Homo sapiens: one gene and its partner. The protein of the gene in region 1 binds, or shares a complex with, the protein of each later gene. Each region holds a gene or a part of one and is shown on either strand. Other genes may lie near its edges.

Region 1 (3,926 bases):
GATGTGAATAAACTGTGTGTAGAATGGTTTCGAAGTCCTCTGAACTTTGTGTAGTAAATGCCTTTCTTTATTGCATACACGACTGGATCCATGAAGACTAACCCTAATCCACGTTTTCCTGTCAACAGTGGAGCGAAACCAACAAATCTTTTCTCTATGGCATGGCTTTGTGGTCATGGTGAACACAAATTTCTCAGTCGTAATGTACCACATACATGCCACAAGCTAATTATACTCTGCGTATTGCTGGCTTTTCCATGGTGAAATAATTGTGGGTATGAACGTAAGACAGCATTTCAACGTCCAACAGTTGCCTACGTCAATAAACTCCCTTGCTAGATGGCCTCTACTTGGGTTTGCCAGAGGGAAAAGAATGAGATCAGAGTATTCCCTGCTTTCCTCTCTGCAGGGTCACATCATGCTCATGTTATTACTTTGTTCCTTAAGGTTCTGAATGCACTTGACACTGCTGACCATTCTATCTTTGAAACTCACTCCTAATGGCTTTGGCTCTTCCACTTTTACTGTTTTCTGACCTCTTTCTCTGGCTGTTCCTTCTTAATCTCCTTTGTAGTCTCCTTGTCTGTCTACGCTTTAATTTCTGATATTCCCATAGGTTGGTAATAAATTCTCTTCTCATTCTATGTGTTTTCCCTGAGTGAGCTGATATAATCCCATGGTTTCCATTATCGGCTAAATGTGAAAGGCTGCCACCCATCCGTCCTCCTGCCCCGACGTCAGACGCATGTATCTCATTATCTTCTGGTCATCTGCACTAGGAGGTCTCAGAAGCATTTTGTATTAATAAGGCTCAAAGAGAACTGATCTTAACCTTGAAACTGCCCCTCCAAAAATATTCCTGTCTCAGTAAATCACATCATTATAGCTTCTTAGACCCTGGAGTCTTTCTTATTAGTGAAAGGATTCTATCACATCCCATTTCCAAATGTATTAGCAAATCTTATTGGTTCTAACTTCAAAATAAAACCCAAACTGACTCTTTCTACCTCCGTTGTTACCATGCCGATCCATTTCCACTACCATCTCTTGACTAAATTATTGCAAGTCTCCTAAGTATTCTCCCTGCTTAGGCCTTTCCCCATGGCAGACTCCACTCTTATATCCCCCTCTTTCCTCCACTGCAAGTTTATTCTCAACCCAGTACTCAGAGGGATCTTTGTGTTTACAGGCATCTTTACTAAAGATTTAGGGAGGCTCGGAGATTTTACTTGGCAGAAACAAAAGTGGCTTAAAACCAAATGTCAGGATTCTGTTCCTAAAACTCCTCTTTCATTTCCATATCTTAGGTTCCAATTTTCCTCCACCCACACTCCTATGTTTTCCTCTGCCTCTCTCTCCTGCTAATTCCTGTTCTTTCAGATTTTTTTAAGATAAAATTTAAGGAACAATAAGGTAATGAATCTTAAGTGTACAGATTAATGTATTTCTACATATGTATATTCTCATATAACTGTCATCAGATACACAGAATACTCCAGCATCCTAGAAGGCTCACCTGTATAGCTTTCATCAACTCCCTTGCTATCTACCCTTTGTTTGGGTTTAACCAATGGAGAGCCCAGCAGGAGTTGCAGAGAAGAATGAGGTCAGAGTATTTATTCCCTGGTTCTCTCACTGCAGGGTCACATCATGCTCCTGGAGGTTAGCTTCTCAAAGTGGTCCTCCTGACATGATACCAATTTTCTAGTAACCTCTCTTTAACCTGTACCCTTAGAGGTATGGTAAAAGCTATTACGGGTTCAAGAACTACATTATCCCCTATAGTACACCCTGACCATGCCTTTGTGAATGGTTCCTTTATTACACCTTCCTTGAGTTATCTTAATTCAAATGTGCCACCTGTTTCCTGCTGAGATCTTGTCTGATGCAGCAGGCACTGATAAAATCTGCTCAATGAATAAGTGATGCTTCCTTCTAATGTCATAAGGATACTTTTCTGCAGGAAAGCCCTTTTGCTAATGGTGGAAGAAAAAACACAAAGGAATAAAGGGGAACACAACAAAGCTCATTCACTGTATCTTGGTCTTTAAGTGATTTTTATTATTTATGCAAGTGAGCAAGTTCTCTTTAATTTTAATTTGAAGGACAATTTAAATGCGTGCAAAATATAACTACACTAAGCAATTCATGCCTTAGAAGGGCACAGTAGCATAAGTGGTTAAAAGCATCGGCCTCAAAGCCAAACTGTAAGTTATCAGCTTTTTTACTGTGAACCAATCATTCAGCTTTAGTGTGGCTCTATTTCCTTTCCTGTAAAACGAACATAATGGTATTACCTATCCAAGGCTGCCACATTGCACAATTCAAAGGAATGCTCTTTATAAGAATATAAACAAAGTGGTGTTCTCTAGAGTCAGGCAATGCTGTAGCCCAAGAGCTCCCTTTTATGACTGCTAGGATAAATAGGGGTATGACACGTGTATTAACCCTATGGGAGCTCTTGGGCTCCCATAATGACTGTTGTAAGGATAAATAGGGTTAATACACATGACTTATGGTATAAGAGACTGGAAAACCAGGGCTTTGTAGTCTATGGTAAGGAATCTGGATTTGATTCTAAATGCAACTGGAAGACACTGGAGGGACATTAGCAGAGAGTTCCAGAGCTCCTAATAATATTAGCCTCTCTCACACAGAGCAGTCTTCCCTACACTAATCATGCCCCCCATAAGTATGCTTTGGTGAATGATGGACCACATGACAGACGGTGGTCCCATACGATTATAATGGAGCTGAAAAATTCCTAGTAACTTCATAGACCCTGTAGTCATTGTAACACCACAGTGCAATATATTACCTTTTCTACCTCAGATATACAAATCATTTTGTTACAATTGCCTATGGGTATTCAGCACAGTTACATGTTGTATAGGCTTAGAGCCTAGGAACAATAGGCTATACCATACAGCCTAAGTGTACAGTTGGCTATACCATTTAGGTTTATTTAAGTACACTCTATGAAGTTCAAACAACAAAACTGCCTAAGGACCCATTTCTCACACAGGATCCCCATTGTTAAGCAATGCAAGACTATATCTGCATGGCTCACTCCTTTCTCTCCTTCATGTCTCACTCAAGTATCACCTCATCAGAGACTGTCTCTGATCAATATATACAAAAAAGTCCCTTCTCTGATCAATATATATAAAATAGATAAGTCCCTTCTCTCAACCCACCAACGACTTACTTTTGAGACTCTCTATCCTTCTTCTCTCACTTTTTCACCATAGCACCAGAAATGTCATAGGCACATTTGTCTATCCCCACACACCCCACCCCTGACTAGAGTGTAGGTTAGATGGGGGTAAGGACTTTGTTTTGCTCATTCCTGTATCCTCAGCATTTAGAACAGTTTGGGCAAATAGAAGATACTTAATAAATATTATTTGAATGTATGGTGACTAGCAAATAATAAGTACTTAATTAGTGTTAGCAACTATTATAAATCTAATTAAGTCACTTCATAATACTAAATGAAGAATACATACCTTGAATCATTTCACTGATTTTGTTACAGATTCCTACAGCAAAATCCCTTTGGAAAAAGAGAACAGAGAACAGAAAAAACTTACATTTGCTTATATTTTCTAAGGACTTAAAAGAAATAAAACACAATTAGCGCAGAAGAAATACAATATTCCAAACTGCAACTAATATTCCAAGGTCAGGTGCTCGGGTTAGGGGAGGTGGTAAGAAACACAACTAAAACAAAAACTCCAGCACCAAATGGGCTATGCCAACACTGCTCTAAAGCAGCTCACTTAGGCCATTACCACAATACAGTGTTATTTTTTCATAACACTAACAAGCATCTGAAATTATTTTGTGTTTATATAACAACAGGGCCTGACCTTTTTCACTCCTATATTTCTGGAACTTAGAAAAGTGTCTGAACATGGTGGATA
Region 2 (3,926 bases), on another chromosome or scaffold:
CTAAAAGAACCCTTGTAATATATTAGAAAAACCATTTCTTGAAATTTCTATGCTGAAAAATGAAAGCCAAGTATTTATTGCTATGTATTTCTACAATCACAGGTAAGAGGTTTACATTACAGATTAGGTGACAAGAGTCAGCACCTAGATTACAAGACTGCGGAAGTCATCAACACCAACATTCCAGTTGGAACCTTGGAGTCAGTTCTTTTTATGCAATCTTGCCATTATAAAACTTAACAGGCTTTGTACCCCTCCCCTAAATTACTAACATGGCCCTTTGACCCAGTGGTCCCCATGGTGGAATACAGAGAAAAAAATATTAACTTTTTAATTTATTTCTATTTCTTTTTTTTTTTTTTTTTTTTTTTGAGACAGAGTCTCGCTCTGTCGCCCAGGCTGGAGTGCAGTGGCATGATCTCGGCTCATGGCAAGCTCCGCCTCACGGGTTCATGCCATTCTCCTGCCTCAGCCTCCCGAGTAGCTGGGACTACAGGCGCCCGCCACCACACCCGGCTAATTTTTTGTATTTTTTAGTACAGACGGGGTTTCATCATGTTAGCCAGGATGGTCTCGATCTCCTGACCTTGTGATCCACCCGCCTCGGCCTCCCAAAGTGCTGGGATTACAGGCGTGAGCCACCGCGCCCAGCCAATTTATTTCTATTTCTATTTATTTTTTAAAAATCTATTCATATACAGAGTGATAATAGTGTGTTATATAATTGATCTTTAACCTCAAGGAGCTTTATCTTCAGCCAGTGAAATCTGAAACTTGCCACAACTATTGTCCTCTTTTATTACAATCAATTCTCCTTTCTGACTACAATCTTCCATTACTCTATCTCTTCCACTGCCTTAATCCAGGGACCTCTTCAAAGTGCCAAGTCAATCTTTCTTCTGTATTTATTCATTTCTCTATTCCCATTCTACTTGTTCTTTGTTACAGAAGCCTCCAATTTCTTGTCCCTTCTGCTTTCTCCTTATTGGCACCCTCTTGCCCTGACTTTTGTTTCCTCACCAAACAGAAAACAGTAGTTGAACCTAAAATAAAACACTTATGGTTATGTGGTTTATATTTTATATTTTAGTTTTCTATCTTACCTTTACTCCCCCTTTTCTGTTGCCTTCTCTAATCTCTGTTACTTTTCCTTCCTTACCGGCAAATATCCATATAGTGAAAGAAGTTTACTTTCTACAGCAGTCATAAAGAGGTCAGCAACTTGGTGTAACTGTGTTGATCTACACATACAAAAATATTTTCCTGGAGTTACACCAAATCATGTTACTTCTATACAATTCCTTTCCTGTATATTCATTCCTAAACCCATGGCCAAAACAGACTGCAAAAGAGCCATATCATTCTTACTATGGATTAGAGTTCTAGAAAACAAAGTCCTGTGTGTGTGTATGAAAGAAAAATGTATATATGAAAGATATTTAATATATTAAATGTAGGTTTCATTTAAAAAGTAGATGTTGCTTTCAAAAAGGAGAATGTGAGAAAATTAATATTTACCACTTTAAAGCTTTCGCTGACCTAGGGAAGTGGTAGTAGTAGTATTGATAGGAGTGAATTCTTAGGTGATGCTGGGAATTAGCTGTGTCAAATGCATATAGCACAAAAATCGCCATTACTGAACAATGATCTTTTTTCTGTATCTCTTATTATCCTTGATTTATTGCAGTATGCCGTTTACTTCCTATCCAGCTCACATTCTGTGGTCCACCCTTTCAATACCTCTTTCAGTACTCTAGGCACCCGAAAGCCCTGTAGTTTCCCTACTTTATAGACATCCACCCTGCTAGCCATTCTCTCTCTGCCTGCACCCAAACTCTAAGTGCAACTGGGAGGAATATACATACATTCTATCTTCAGAATCACCATTCTCAGCTTGGCGTTCAGTACAACTTGGCAATTCTCTCATCCTTCTCTGGTCAACTCACTTCCCCACTTTCTGCAAAGATCAGTTATACTTCCTCCATTTTCTTTTAAAATTGCTTCTGTGTTTCAGTAGATGGCCTCACCTACTTCACAAAGAGAGGCTGTCAGAGAGGAATTAAGTCGACTTCCTTCCAGCACATCTACAAACTTACCTGCACTCATCCTTTCCTCTTTCCCATCTGATAAAAAAGGAGAAGGTAGCTCTCTATGTAGTGTCACCTGGATCTGGATCCTATCTCTTCTTGTCCCCTCTTGAACCTTGGCCTATGGATTATTTCCCATATCTTCTTTTTTTTTTTTTCAGCCTTTCTACTGGCATCTTTTCATTGACATTAAATATATTCAAACATCTTCTATCTTTTCTCTTTTATAGCAAAACGTTCTCAGAAATCATATGCTTTTGTACTCTTTTTCTTCATTCCTTCTATTTACACAGCAATTCTTGCAATTCAGCCTTTGTCCCACTATTCCATGAAAATGCTCTCATGAGTCATTCGCCGCCTCAGTCAGGTAAACCTAATACATACGATTGTCCCTCCTACTTCTTTGTCAGTCATCTTTGTAGGTTCCTCCTATCCAATTAAAAATGAGTTCCTCAGTGCTAGGTTCTGGGTCTCTTCTTGACTTGTTCTACATCTTCTTCCAAAAATGTGTTCTCTGAGTCAGCAGCATAGGTATCACGTCAGAACTTAGAAATACAAACTCTTGGTCTCCATTCCTAGGCCTACTGAAGAAAAAACTCTGGGAGTAGGGTCTAGAAATCTGTGTTAAGCCTTCCAGGCAATTCTATCTACTCTAAAGTTTGGGAATTATTGCCCTAGACAATTTGATCTATATAGTCTTTTGCCAGTGATTACTAATACATCTCTGCAGTCCATGTGTCTCTCCCAAGATCCAACTGCCAGCTTGACATGGATATATCATTGGTGCCTCCTATGCAACGTGTCTCCAACAGAGCCACTCATACACTATTCCCTTTTCTCCTAACCAGTTCTTCCTCTAGTAATCCCTTTTTCAAATGATATTTACCCTATTGCCCAAGCCAGTAACCCAGAAGCAGCTTTAACTCTTCCCACTTCCTTAATTCCCACCCCCAATTCAATAACCAAACCTCTTAAACATACCTCAAATCTATCCACCCTTTTCAATCCTTACTACTACCACCCTAGACCAACCTAGCATCATCTATTATCTGGCCCACTGCAAAAGCTTAATCAGTCTCCCACAATCACTCTTGTCATCCCTTTAAACCTTTTCATATCACTCACTTGCTTAAAATCCTTTTATCACTTCTCACAATCCAAAGGTTCAAGAATAAGATTCTTAACAAGGTCTCCAATTCTCTACATCAGGGGTCCCTAACCTTCAGGCCATGCAGCAGGAGGTGAGCAGTAGGCAAGCGAGGGAAGCTTCATTTGTATTTACAGCCACTCCCATCACTTGCATTACTACCTGAGCTCTGCCTCCTGTCACATCACTGGTGGAATTAGATTCTCATAGGAATGCGAATCCTATGTGAACTGTGCATGTGTGTGATCTACGTTGTGTGCTCCTCATGAGAATCTAATGCCTGATGATCTGTCACAGTATACCCCATCATCCCCAGATGAAACCGTCTAGCTGCAGGAAAGCAAGCTCAAGGTTCCCACTGATTCTACATTATGGTGAGTTGTCCAATTATTTTATTATATATTACCATGTAGTAATAAGAGAAATAAAGTGCACAATAAATGTAATGCACTTGAATCATCCTGAAACCATGTCTTCAATGAAACTGGTCCCTGGTGCCAAAAAGGTTGTGGACCATTGCTCTACATGATTAATAATACATATAAAGCAGTTACAACAGTACCTGACACATAGTTGACACTCATTAAATGTTACCTAGTATCTTAGGCCATTCTCACTCTCTCTGTTATAGCTATCTGACTTATTTCAAGTCCTCCAATATACTCTTTCTTACCTTAGCACTTCAGTAGAAA

Evidence for each region.
Region 2: INTS7 (region 1) and INTS12 share a complex: the UniProt entries of both Homo sapiens proteins name them as parts of the integrator complex.

What each region holds. Positions count from the first base shown.
Region 1 is NC_000001.11:212,007,866-212,011,791, forward strand, and holds part of INTS7 (integrator complex subunit 7), read right to left. Parts: intron 3,557-3,926; coding exon 3,510-3,556; intron 1-3,509. UniProt on the Homo sapiens protein: Component of the integrator complex, a multiprotein complex that terminates RNA polymerase II (Pol II) transcription in the promoter-proximal region of genes.
Region 2 is NC_000004.12:105,701,783-105,705,708, forward strand, and holds part of INTS12 (integrator complex subunit 12), read right to left. Parts: intron 3,609-3,926; exon of another isoform or gene 3,532-3,608; intron 2,028-3,531; 5' UTR 1,866-2,027; intron 1,242-1,865; exon of another isoform or gene 1,104-1,241; intron 1-1,103. UniProt on the Homo sapiens protein: Component of the integrator complex, a multiprotein complex that terminates RNA polymerase II (Pol II) transcription in the promoter-proximal region of genes.